Homo sapiens: one gene and its partner. The protein of the gene in region 2 purifies or fractionates together with the protein of the main gene of each other region. This does not show direct contact. Each region holds a gene or a part of one and is shown on either strand. Other genes may lie near its edges.

Evidence for each region.
Region 1: the proteins of FMR1NB (region 2) and CEBPZ purify together in Homo sapiens (affinity purification with mass spectrometry; 3 studies listed by BioGRID and IntAct, with this or other methods). This does not show direct contact.

What each region holds. Positions count from the first base shown.
Region 1 is NC_000002.12:37,221,597-37,228,627, reverse strand, and holds part of CEBPZ (CCAAT/enhancer-binding protein zeta), read left to right. Parts: coding exon 1-1,084; intron 1,085-5,226; coding exon 5,227-5,458; intron 5,459-6,064; coding exon 6,065-6,248; intron 6,249-7,031. UniProt on the Homo sapiens protein: Stimulates transcription from the HSP70 promoter.
Region 2 is NC_000023.11:147,998,320-148,005,350, reverse strand, and holds part of FMR1NB (FMR1 neighbor protein), read right to left. Parts: intron 2,151-7,031; coding exon 2,031-2,150; intron 1-2,030.

The DNA.
Region 1 (7,031 bases), on a different chromosome or scaffold from region 2:
GCAATGAATATTCTTTGAAACCCCAGCCTCAGGATGTTGTATCTAAGTACAAAACCCTTGCTCAGAAGCTGTATCAGCATGAAATCAACTTATTCAAAAGTAAGACGAATAGTCAAAAGGGAGCCTCTTCTACCTGGATGAAGGCAATTGTGTCATCGGGGACACTAGGTGACAGGATGGCAGCCATGATTCTTCTTATTCAGGATGATGCCGTTCACACACTTCAGTTTGTAGAAACTCTTGTGAACCTTGTTAAAAAGAAGGGCAGCAAACAGCAGTGCCTTATGGCCTTGGATACTTTCAAAGAGTTGCTTATCACAGACCTTTTGCCAGACAATCGGAAGCTGAGGATTTTCAGCCAGCGTCCTTTTGACAAACTGGAACAGTTGTCCAGTGGCAACAAGGACTCAAGAGATAGAAGACTGATATTATGGTATTTTGAACACCAGCTGAAACACTTAGTGGCTGAATTTGTGCAGGTCTTAGAAACTTTAAGTCATGATACATTAGTAACCACTAAAACTCGAGCCCTTACCGTGGCTCATGAGCTGCTTTGTAACAAGCCTGAGGAAGAAAAGGCTCTTCTTGTGCAAGTGGTAAATAAACTGGGAGATCCTCAGAACAGAATTGCCACAAAAGCATCCCATCTGTTAGAGACATTACTTTGTAAACATCCCAATATGAAAGGAGTTGTGTCTGGTGAAGTAGAAAGGCTACTCTTCCGCTCAAATATCAGCTCCAAAGCTCAATATTATGCAATTTGCTTTTTAAATCAAATGGCTCTGTCCCATGAAGAAAGTGAATTGGCTAACAAATTAATAACTGTTTACTTTTGCTTTTTTCGGACTTGTGTCAAAAAAAAAGATGTTGAATCAAAAATGCTTAGCGCCCTTTTAACAGGTGTGAATAGGGCATACCCTTATTCCCAGACTGGTGATGACAAAGTAAGGGAGCAGATTGACACACTGTTTAAAGTGTTGCATATTGTGAATTTTAATACCAGTGTCCAGGCTTTAATGTTGCTTTTCCAAGTAATGAATTCTCAGCAGACAATATCGGATCGATATTACACAGCATTATACAGGTAAGAACATACCCTTCCAATATGAGACATGAAATAATAACTTGATGTAGTACAGCACAAGCAGTGCCCTCTGTGGGGCAAGAAAAAGAGTTAGAAAATTTGGTTTTAGGCCCCCTCAGCAGCTTGCTACTCGCCACCTTCAAGTAAGTCACTTAATCTTTGTTTCCCTGATGGGCACAAATTATATTAGATGCTTTGAATACATTTTTCATTTTGAGAGGTTGTAAAATACAGAAAAATACCCAAAAGATTCATTCATATCTACCACCTAGTATTTCAGAATTAACATTTTGCTATATTTGTTTTAAATCTTTTGGGATATTAAAGAAATAAAATTGCAGATATAATTGCAGTTTCCGTCTTCCCATTCTCCTCAGTCCTCTATCTTTTCCCTGCTGTCTTTCACACAGTTGAATGCATTCACACAGTAACTCATTCAACAAGTATTTTCTGAGTGCCTGCAGTATGGTGCCATGCTCTAGGTGCACAGGAGGCACAGCGAACAGAAATCCCACCCCTGGAGGCGCTCACATTCATATTGGAGGAGGTGGCAGAGAGGGGAGCGGTGGTAAACAAAGTATGTTAAGTAGAGAGTTTTGGGGGATGCAGGGTGCAGGGTTTTTTTTGTTGTTGTTTTTTAATGGAGATGAAGATTTTCTTTACTGAATTTTGCAACTCACCCATTGAGGCATCATATTTTCAGCAATGTGTAAACAGTTTGGAGCTGTTTAAGAGACAGTCGAACATAGCAACTGTGTTCAAGAAATTAATATATTTCCTTCTGATTCATTTTTATATTTTTACATAGATATATCTTGTGAGAAAATGTGGAGTAGTGGTTCGTATCTTAGACTTAAGCCACGCCGCCTGGGTTTGAGTCCCTGCCATTAGTTTTCTGTGTAATTTTGGGCAAATTACTTGATCCCCACTAAAAACCTATTGGTAGACATAATTCATCCCATGTTATCATGCTTAAGTGGATTTGTCTGTAGGATGGAGAGAAAAGCAGCTATCTCATATGATTATTATGAAGATTTTGAAACTTGCACAAGGTTCTACAGCTTGTAAATGACAGAACTGGGGCTTTAATGAAGGTTGGGAGGTTATGTGTGTTAACCCATGTAATCTTTCTATGTATATTAAGTGCTTAACAGTGCCTAACACTTAGTGCTATGTGAAATGTTGGCGGCTATCCTTATTACTGATAGTCATCCATGTTTCTTTAGTTTAATCCTCTTAACAGCTCTCCAGTCTGTGATGTAGGGGTGGGTTGCCCCTACACACCTGTGGGTGTTTCTCGTAAGGTGGGACGAGAGATTTGGAAAAGAAAAAGACACAGAGACAAAGTATAGAGAAAGAAATAAGGGGAACCGGGGAACCAGCGTTCAGCATATGGAGGATCCCGCCAGCCTCTGAGTTCCCTTAGTATTTATTGATCATCTGTCGGTGTTTCTCGAAGAGGGGGATGTGTCAGGGTCACAAGACAATTGTGGGGAGAGGGTCAGCAGACAAACACGTGAACAAAGGTCTTTGCATCATAGACAATGTAAAGGATTAAGTGCTGTGCTTTTAGATATGCATACACATAAACATCTCAATGCTTTACAAAGCAGTATTGCTGCCCACAGGTCCCACCTCCAGCCCTAAGGCGGTTTTTCCCTATCTCAGTAGATGGAGCATACAATCGGGTTTTATACCGAGACATTCCATTGCCCAGGGACAGGCAGGAGACAGATGCCTTCCTCTTGTCTCAACTGCAAGAGGCATTCCTTCCTCTTTTACTAATCCTCCTCAGCACAGACCCTTTACGGGTGTCGGGCTGGGGGACGGTCAGGTCTTTCCCTTCCCACGAGGCCATATTTCAGACTATCACATGGGGAGAAACCTTGGACAATACCTGGCTTTCCTAGGCAGAGGTCCCTGCGGCCTTCCGCAGTTTTTGTGTCCCTGGGTACTTGAGATTAGGGAGTGGTGATGACTCTTAAGGAGCATGCTGCCTTCAAGCATCTGTTTAACAAAGCACATCTTGCACCGCCCTTAATCCATTCAACTCTGAGTGGACACAGCACATGTTTCAGAGAGCACGGGGTTGGGGGTAAGGTTATAGATTAACAGAATCTCAAGGCAGAAGAATTTTTCTTAGTACATAACAAAATGGAGTCTCCTATGTCTACTTCTTTCTACACAGACACAGTAACAATCTGATCTCTCTTCCTTTTCCCCACACTGTGAGATACAATAATTTGGGCAAGGTCACACAGATATTAAGAGACCAAGTTAGGTGGCAAGTCCAGGTCCACTTGCTGTAGATTTCATGACATTTCATAGCACTGATTGCTCTGGTCCACTAAAAAGACTCAGAAGCCTTTCCACAACTCTTTGAAGTAATAGATAACTTAACACTGTTAATTTGAAAAGAGTTCCAAGGCTGAAAATGTAGAGGTTTCGGGATCTTGAGTTTTGTTTTTGTTAGTTTGTTTGTTTGTTTGTTTGTTTGTTTGTTTTGAAGGGGGGTGGTTTCATTATTTTGAACTTTTGATGGTCATAGGAATTTTTGATTTTTAGAAAGTGTTTGAAATCTATTAGAAAACATTTTTCTGTCTCTATTTAACATCATAGTCTAACATCTCTGAGGAAGGGTGGATTTTTAAGTTTTTGAAATTACTATTTGCCAAAAGCGCTCACAGATGGAGTTTCTTAACAGGCCTTTAGGCCTTCTTAAAGTGTTTGTTTGCTCTTGGTTTTATTAGGAATCCTTCACATTAAGAAAACCCCTAGTTAATTGAGGGATAAAAGAAATGACATGATTTGGTTTACAAAAATATTTATCAAAACATTAGGAAAATATTTCATGAAATGATAGAGACATGTCTCTAAATTCTTCTCAGATGTTTCTGTTGATGTGAGATGTAATTTATGCCTAATAATAAATTGCAAAATGGATGGAAATGTTGGAAAATTTAAATGTAAAGAGGGAAAATTTAAATGTAAAGAGAGAAAATTGAATAATCCAGAATATCCCAGAATATTACCAAAAGGGTGATATTTCCCAGAGTATTCAGAGCAATAGGAAAGTGCTTCACAAGCTTAAGTATTTTTCATTTCTAGTGTTAGTAGGAAAAAATTAATGGAAATGCTTAAAACAAAGGAAGTAATGATTCCAGGTGTTAATAGAGCTAATCTGGAGGATTGTGTTAATTCTGGGTGTCCTAATATCTGCAGGTCTAGACCGGTTGGGGACATGTGTAGGATTCAGCACCTAGGATAGAGAATTTTTAAAGTATCATGAGATCAAAGTAGAGCAGCCTACAGAAGACAGACATTAGGGAGAGACAAGCACATAATAGCTAAATAGGTTCAAGTATTTGGAAAACTGTCATGTAAAGGTATTAACTGCCAGGCACTGGGGTTACAACAGTGAATAACAGGCATAATCCCTATTTCATTGGACCTTTAGAGAAGAGGGAAAGGCAGGAAAATCAAGTTTGTGAAACTATGAAGAACACAAACATGGGACTGAGAGACTAATAGAAGAACCAATTTTGGATACTGTGGACATGCAGAGAGTTGGAGAGAAGCACTCTGGGCAGTGAAAATAGCGTGTATGAGAGGAATGTTACACAGCTAGTACATTGGACTAGAGATTCTCTGAAGTCCTTAGAATTTAATTTTCTGCTGTTCATCGATGGTCTTCACTAAAATCATGAAGAGGCGGCCTCTGGTCCCCCTGCTAGTAGGTAGTTATACAAGGACAAAAACCCAAATCTTCTAATGTTCTGCTTTCATGGGTCAGTTTTCACTATCTGGTTTTAGATTAGCTTTTCTGGTGGGGTTCTGTAAATACTGTTAGGGCTGTGCCCTGTTGATATAGAAAACAGAAAAACACTTGGAAAAGACAAGAAAACCACACACTCAAAAATGCCTATTCCTGTGTCTGTTGCTGTTGGTTTTTCCTGGTGCCATCATCATCCTTTTCTGGTCATTGACTTCCATCTTACCTCTTAGGGCAGGGTCTCTTGTTCTAAAATAAGCAGCAAAGTTATCCCTAACTAAGATGAGGTTAGTAGCTATTTCTAATATGTGACCATTGGTTGTGGAGATGGTTTTATACATAAATATTTGACCTTGGTTTTGTTTTGCAGGAAGATGTTGGATCCAGGGTTGATGACGTGTTCCAAGCAAGCTATGTTTCTTAACCTTGTCTACAAATCTCTGAAAGCTGACATTGTGTTGCGCCGGGTGAAGGCTTTTGTGAAGAGGTTACTTCAAGTTACTTGTCAACAGATGCCACCATTTATATGTGGAGCTTTATATCTTGTGTCTGAGATCCTTAAAGCAAAACCAGGTTTAAGAAGCCAACTAGATGATCATCCGGTATATTTTACAACTGCTTTTTAAATTGAGTGGGTGCTGAAATATATTGGTTTTTGTTTTGTTTTTCTTTGCTTCAAATGACAGTAACCTAGTTCTCTGGAGCATATGAGTGTGAGTTCTGGAATAGGACAAACCTAGATTTTAGTACCAGCTGTACAGTTTACTAGGTGGGCATGTTGCTCAACTCTTCTACTTGCAATAAACTGTACTATACTAGAAGCTACCATTATATGAGATTTGGAAGACTATAAAACTTAGTAGACCTCTTAAGTCTTCTTCCTTAACAATGAAATGGAAATAATAGTACCTACCTCATAGGGTTATTTACAAGTCAGAAATTTACTTGAGGGCTAATTGTTTTCAAGTATTAGAGTCCTTAAGGCTCAGGGGTTCTTAGCTCAAAACTTAACTGTGTTATGTTTAGAAATAAGGATGTAATCTCCTCTCTTGTTTAAATACCATTGATAGCCATCATTTTACTTTATTAGAACTTTCACGTTTCACCAGAGTTGCAATAAGTAAAACTCTGCATCACATAATGGAGCACAGACTTTATTGCAACTTCCAGTTGATTTATGTAGATTTATGAAACTATACTTTTGTTAGGAGTCTGATGATGAAGAAAATTTTATTGATGCAAATGATGATGAAGACATGGAAAAATTCACTGATGCAGACAAAGAAACAGAGATAGTGAAAAAACTTGAGACAGAGGAAACAGTTCCTGAAACTGATGTAGAAACCAAAAAACCAGAGGTTGCTTCCTGGGTGCACTTTGATAATTTGAAAGGTGAGTTTTTTTCATCTTTATTCTCTAGGGAGTTTGTTTCTCTTTGATTTTCATAGAAAATAGCATTCTACCATTTTATTTACTTATTTATTTATTTAGACAGAGTCTCACTCTGTTGCCCAGGCTGGAATGCAGAGGCGTGATCTCGGCTCACTGCAACCTCCGCCTCCCAGGTTCAAGTGATTCTCCTGCCTCAACCTCCCAAGTAGCTGGGATTACAGGCATGTGCCACCACACCTGGCTAATTTTTGTATTTTTAGTAGAGGTGGAGTTTCACCATGTTCGCCAGGCTGGTCTCAAACTCCTGACCTCAGGTGATCTGCCTGCCTCAGCCTCCCAAAGTGCTGGGATTACAGGCGTGAGCCACTGTACCTGGCCCACAGTTTCTTAAAGTAATGTTTTAGGGATAGAAAACTTTCTGTTCAAGATAGAAACGTTAAGTGGTTTTCTATACACACACCAAACTAAATTAAAAGTCTATTAATAGAATGTTAGAGTCAAAAAAAAATCTTAGAAATGCAGCCCCTTCATTTGAGGCTGTGAAGAAAACACCAGCCTTGAGGTTCGAGAAATGTGGTGCCAGACCCATTTCTTCAGCTTGCTTTGGGACTCACAGTCAAATTAATTCATCTACAAATTTCAGTTTGTGAAGTACAAAAGAGAAGTCTGATAGCTGCCAGAAAAGTTTGAGAAGAATCCATCAGTTCCCCTGAAGACTAAACTGAGAATAATCCTTTAGAAGGATGAAGAGCTTGTGTGTTGGAAGGTAGTCAGTTCCTAGTT
Region 2 (7,031 bases):
CATGGGTACTGTTCAAACACCACTTCCCAGAAATGCTAAAGAGAGGGTTAGGGTTAGGGTTAAATCGTAGAAGAGACTAGACTATATGATCTCTAAGATCATCTGTTAATTTCTGCTTTAAGTGCATCTGATGGACTTTATGCTAGATATTAAAATTAACACAGGCCAGGCACGATGGCTAGTGCCTGTAATCCCAGCACTTTGGGAGCCCAAGGCGGGCGGATCACGAGGTCAAGAGATCGAGACCGTCCTGGCCAACATGGTGAAAACCTGTCTCTACTAAAAATACAAAAATTAGCTGGGCGTGGTGGCATGTGCCTGTAGTCCCAGCTACTCAGGAGGCTGAGGTAGGAGAATTGCTTGAACCTGGGAAGCAGAGGTTGCAGTGAGCCGAGATTGTGCCACTGCACTCCAGCCTGGCAACAGAGCGAGACTCTGTCTCAAAAAAACAAAAACAAATTAACTTTCAAGCTCAAATTACTAAGAGGCATTGGTAATTTTAAAGAATCAAAAAGGTAGAACAATTTTTTTTTGTCAGGTTTAAGTATGTAATTTTGTCCAAAGGGAGAAAGATCAGGTGATCTCTCAAGCTTCCCTGCCAGTGTGTATCAAGGTTGTCATTTTAATCTGCAAGAGATAAATATTTTACAAATAGTAGCCTAATGGCAAAACAACGAACTTTTTTTTCATGCTTAAGTGGTAAGAGTGTTTATTTTCAATTATGTGGGGGAAGAAATAAATTGGTTAAAAATATTTCACGTTTTATGAAGCTGTAGTTATTGTCTTCAAAGACAGTATGTACATTTGATAAATATTTAATCACTTTTTGAATCAACCTAGGTCAGATGTTTCTATTAAAATGGAACAATTTTATTTTGTTGGACAAAATTTTTACTTCATATAATTGATTTTGACTTACTTTCCTGCACCAGGTTGGAGAAATATTTGGGAAATGCAGATATCTTTTTCGAACCATTTTTACAGGTGGCTTCAGTGTCTGTACAATGTAGTTATTACAGGTAAGTATGTGACTGTTTACATCTGTTGTTTTCATAAGCTTTAAAGCTTAAATCATCATTAGTTGTTGTTTACGACTAACTGTGGCACTCAAACCATTCTTTCAGCCTATACGACATAACACCGTCTCAGATTTCTTTTTTATTTACTCAATTTGACCATGGCAGTATTTTGAGTTTATTTAAGGAACTTGTTTATTTTGCTATTCTCATTGGTAGATGCCTGTTTTAAACTTAATGTAACAAGTATAAAGAAACATAAAGAGATTTTTTCAAGTTCACTAAAGAATTCAGTGGAAAGGCCTGGAATCAAAGAACAGATATAATTTTGTGCTTATAGAGTATATCAAATTTTGTTAGAATAAATTCTGCATGATTTTTCATAAGAGCTTTATCTTTGTACTTCACATATTCCAATTTATATGAAGCTTCTCCTTGAAAGGGCACCACATGCTATACAAAATGAAACGTGTTTATTTGTGGTTAATAATTCTCAGGGGTCATAATGTGCTTGATAAACACATTATATACAGAATCACAAAAAGACAGTGAGACTTGAAACCTGGGATTTCTATCATTAAAACAGATGGGAAAACATCTGGCATATTCCATAACATCAGTCACACAGTACCCTCACTAATGCCACAGAAGACATCAATTTCACAATACTGGGTCAGTGACTGAATTTCAGGCAATGCCATTCAGGCAAATTGTGAAAGATTAGATATTTGCGAAGGAAAAGTATTTTATAAACAGTAACAAACATTTATGAAATGCCTTATGAATATTATCTCAGTTCATCCTCATAATTCTTTGTGGTAAATATCTTCATTTCAAAGATGAGGGCACTGAGGTTCAGAGAGATTGTCTTGCCTAAGCCAAAGAGCAGAGCCAGGATTCAAACTCAGCTCTGTCCCACTCCAGTGCCATTACACCACACTGCTTCCTAAACATTTAATTACTGTTTTCAAAACAAGAACATTAGAGGGGGAAAAAAATCAAACAAGAACTTACTTGTTGGAAAGAAAAAATTCAGCAAAGCTTCCAATGCGGAATCTTCTTCCAGAGATTGGCCATGAGCATTTTCACTGTTGGGCAGGATATGTCCATTTGCAAGCACAAAATATGAGGACCCTTAAGAAGAAGTAAAATTATTAATCCCAACATATAAAGCATTTATCACTTTCAATGACCCTTGAATGGTAATTACCTTTGCTTAAATTAATTATAGAATGTCAAATAGCTAACAGATATACTTTCATCTCATAACAGCTTAAGCATCATTAATAATCAGAATGCAATTTTGTTGTGAAACTGAAAAAGTGTTAAATTTACAAATGCTTAAGCTATAGGCTGACACATGCCATTGTTGTAAGCTGATTTACAATAGTAAACTTGCCTCTGACAAATGGCATTAAGAGGCCTAATCAACTGATGAGCTGAAAACAGTATGTATTCCAACTAAATCAGATCCCATCACAGAAAGTCTTGGAAAATATGTTGGCTTACATATATATTGACAAAAATCAAGGCCTTACATACAGTAAAACCTTCCTTATCCTTCTTTCTCACTATTTTAAAGAACTGGTTTTTAGTCTTATTTACACAATTCCCTCCTACATGAGAGAAGAGGATAACACAGATTTGTCCATAGCATTAAATATTTCCCAAAACTATCTTTAATAATGTCACAGAATTCCATTATATGGCTCTATTATAACTCAGTTAGCAATTTCTCCATAGGAAAACATTTAGGCTGTTTACAATTTATTGATGTTATAAAGAACACTGCAATGATTATCATTACATTATCGTTAGCTTGCAATGATTATCACTGAAGCTTTATATTTATATATTTGCAAATATTCATGAAAAATTACTTAAGATAAATTCTTAAGGCATGGTGGCTCTTGAGTATGTCCAAATTACCCTCCAGCAGGGCAACCCTAAAATACACTTCTACCAGTAGTACAGGCAAGTGCCAGTTTTCTGACACCTCTCCATTTTTTATTATTTGCCAATTTGATGGCCAAAATAAAACAAAATATCTTTTGTTTTAATTTGCAACTTTCATAATCAGTGAGCTTACATATTTCATATTGTGTTGCATAGTAGAGAACTTAACTCTTAATCTGCCACATATTTAAAATATTTTTTTCAAGGTAATTGGTTATCCTTACTTTTTTATGGTGTTTGGGAAGCTCAGAAGCTTAAAATGTTATATGTAATTAAATCTATCAATCTCTTCCTTTATTATTTTTACCTCTATAAAGGCATTCTATACTCTAATACTCCCAACATTTTCATGGTTGTACTTTTTAAATTTAAATATTTAATACACCTGGAGTATATTTTGGAGTGTGTTGTGGAGTAGGGATACGATTTTTCCAGCAGTCATAAGGCCCTTTATTAAATCCATCCTTTTCTGTTATACTTAAGATAACATCATCACATTCTAAATCCTTACTATATCCTTATAGTCATAGATCTGCTTCTTGACTTTCTATTCTGTTCCACCAACCTATCTATTCATGTGCCAATACTAATGTTATTGTTTATTTTATCTTTTCTTTTATTTTTTTTTTGAGACAGAGTATCGCTCTGTTGCCCAGGCTGGAGTGCAATGGCGCAATCTCAGCTCACTGCAACCTCCGCCTTCCTGGTTCAAGTGATTCTTGTGCCTTGGCCTCCCGAGTAGCTGAGATTACAGGCATGCACCATCACGCTCAACTAATTTTTGTATTTTTAGTAGAGACGGGGTTTCACCATGTTTCCCAGGCTGGTATCGTGATCCACCTGTCTAGGCCTCCGTAAGCCACTGCACCCGGCCTATCTTATGTCATTATGTTTTAATAACTGATCTGGTAATCCTTTCATTGTCTCTACTATCAAATTTTATTTTCAGCTCTGAGAATTTTTTAGATGAACCTTAAAATCGTTTTGTCAAGTCAAAAAAAATTCTAAATTTTATGGTAATTATGTTCACTTATTTATCATTCATTCAAAAATCATTTATTGTGTGTCCCACGTGCTAGGCATGAATTCAATTAAATGTAGACTCATTTGGAGAGAATTGATAATGTTACAAAATTTTTTCACCTAAGTAGTTTTGTTTCTCTGTTCATTCAAGTCTCTTTTTATGTCCCTGAATAAGGTTTATCATTGTATTCAGATAGGCCCTGCACTTTTCTTAGTACATTTATTCCCAGGCATCATATATATTTTGTTGTTTTGTGAACATAATCCATTTCACCACATTTTCTAGTGGATTGATGGTATGTAAGAGAGCTATTGATTTTTATACATATATTTTCTTCCTCCCTTAGTTAACTCTCGTTAGTTCTCATTGTTCTTCAGTTTCATTCCAGATAGACAATAATATTATCACTAAATATAGATGACTTTGTCTCCTTTCTTTACAATATTAACACCTGAATTATTTTTCTTCTTTCACTGTATTGCCTAGAAATGTTTAAACTATGTTGATTAATAACCATAATAATGGGCGTTCTTGAGTCATTCCTGACTTTAATGGGAATGTGCTAATATTTCATAATGAAGTATAATGTTGGCTGCTGGTGTAAGATAGATACCCTTTATTAAATTAAGGATGTATTTCTCTAGTTTTAGTTTTCTACAAATTTTCTGTTGTTATTTTGTTTCATTTTGAATCAGGGATAGAACTGGGATTCTATCAAATCCTTTTAATATTTACTGCCATGATGATATTTCCCCCTGCCTATTAATTATTGAATGTTATTAATATATTTGCCAATATTAAAATATTCTTGCATTCTTGAACAAAGTCCACAAGTGCTAATGTTTTATATAGGATTCATGATTCAACATTCCTAAGTGAAGTGTGTCTGCAGTTTTCTTTTGTGTGCTACATCTGTAAATTTTGGCATAAGAGTTATACCTGTTTCATTCATAAAATAACCTAGGAAGCTTCCTGTTGCTTTTCTAGACTAAAACAGATGAAACAATATAGGAATGATTTGATCCATTAAAGGTTTGGGAAAACTCATCCAGAAAAAGTCTGAGTCTTCATTTTTTGGAGAGGGGTAGTTCTTTATCTTTTGCTTCTTCATGGTCACAGTTAATTTTGTTATTTTTATTTTGCTAGGAAATCATCTATTTACAAAGCAATTATTAGCATGGAATCATAAGACTATTCACTTGTAATATTTAAATCTCCTTTATATCAATGATAATATCTTCTTTCTCATTTTAATGAGAGCAACTTCCATACACATACATTTGAATGTGTACTCTCACAATGAACTCTATTATAAATGTTAAATCAAGCTAAATTATATTATGCAAATGCTCTGTATCTTTATTTTTCTGTCAAGGACTAAAAGATAAATATTAAAGTATCTCACCATGATTGTGGTTTTGACGATTTCTACTTAAATTTCTAAAACTATTTGTTTCATATATTCCAATAGTGCATATTCAATCATGACAATTTTATCTTCACTATATATTACACCTTGACAATATTAAACATAATCCATTTTGTCCTGCTTGTTTTCTACTAATGCTTACTCATTATTGAACACCCACTATATTCTGTGTTTTGAGGATATATCAGTGAACAAGTCAGACAAGATCCCTGCCCTCATGGAGCTTACTACAATGCAGTGGAGAAGACAGACCACTAACAAATTAAGTAATTACAAATTGTAATGAGTGCTATGAAGAAAAGTGGATACTGATACAGAATAAAGGAGGGGGGCTACTTTAAATGGGAGCCAGTCTCTCTGAGGAGATGATATTTAAGTGGAAAAAAAAAAAAGACTAGAAGTAGCTGGCTGAACAAAGGGCCTGGGAGAGTGCTTCCAGCACAAGGACAAGAAATGAGATTAATGTTGCTAGGCACATTTTGCCAGATCAGAGAACCCTCTGTCCTACATGACATGAGAAGGGAGCTACAGATGGAAGGGACCTTGACAAGACTTTAGTTCCATATTGCTGTTTGTTTGCTCAGTGTTCCCCTTCGTCAATTTGCTGTCCTTGTTGCCACTCGATTCAGCACACCATCTGAAGTAAGTGTTGGCTGACAGTAGCACACTGAGGCCCAAGTCTCCATCCTAAGTTATATTCAGCAAGTTATGTGCTCTCTGGAATTCCTCTAGAATATTGATCCCCCAACTTAGAGTCCCCAACTCAGAGTGCCCTAGCCTCCAGACCCTGCTGGACAGGCTTGCCCTTGGCTTGACATGAAACACAAGTTGCTGTGATTTCTCTCCATCATGTTTTTATCTTTCAGAGAACCCTCCAAGTTTCTGGCATATAGATGCCAGATGGAAACTTTCTAGGTTCTCCAGGTTTTCACCCTTTATAGATCTTTCGGTCATTACAATGGGCATTGAAATGAAAGCGACAATTAAACATCTTAACTAAGATGAGCAACATCAGTGGCAGTCTCAACCATAAGTCTAGAATATATTTTACCCTGCCCTCCACCTTTGGTTTCTTCCGTACTCTGAAAGAAAATTATTTTTAAATTAATTTGAGCAGTATGTCTCAAAGTGTAGTCTATCACTAGTAGTACATAAGAATTTTAGGTGGAACATAGATGAATATTTATGGATATATTAATGTTTGCTATGAGTTTATTTGAAAGTGTAAAAGAAAAAAATGAGTAACATATCAAACCTACCATGACACCAAACACGGCTGACATCACTTGCCATAGGGCAAATCTTTATAAACTTTGTCTTTTTTGATACTTTGAGTTCTGGGATACATGTGCAGAATGTGCAGGTTTGTTACATAGGTATACATGGGCCATGGTGGTTTGCTGCACCCATCAACCCGTCATCTACATTAGGTATTTCTCCTAATGCTCTCCCTCCTCTAGCCCCCCACCCCCTGACAGGCCCTGGTGTGTGATGTTCCTCTCCCTGTGTCCATATGTTCTCATTGTTCAACTCCCACTTATGTGTGAGAACATGCGGTGTTTAGTTTTCTGTCCCTGTGTTAGTTTGCTGAGAATGATGGTTTCAA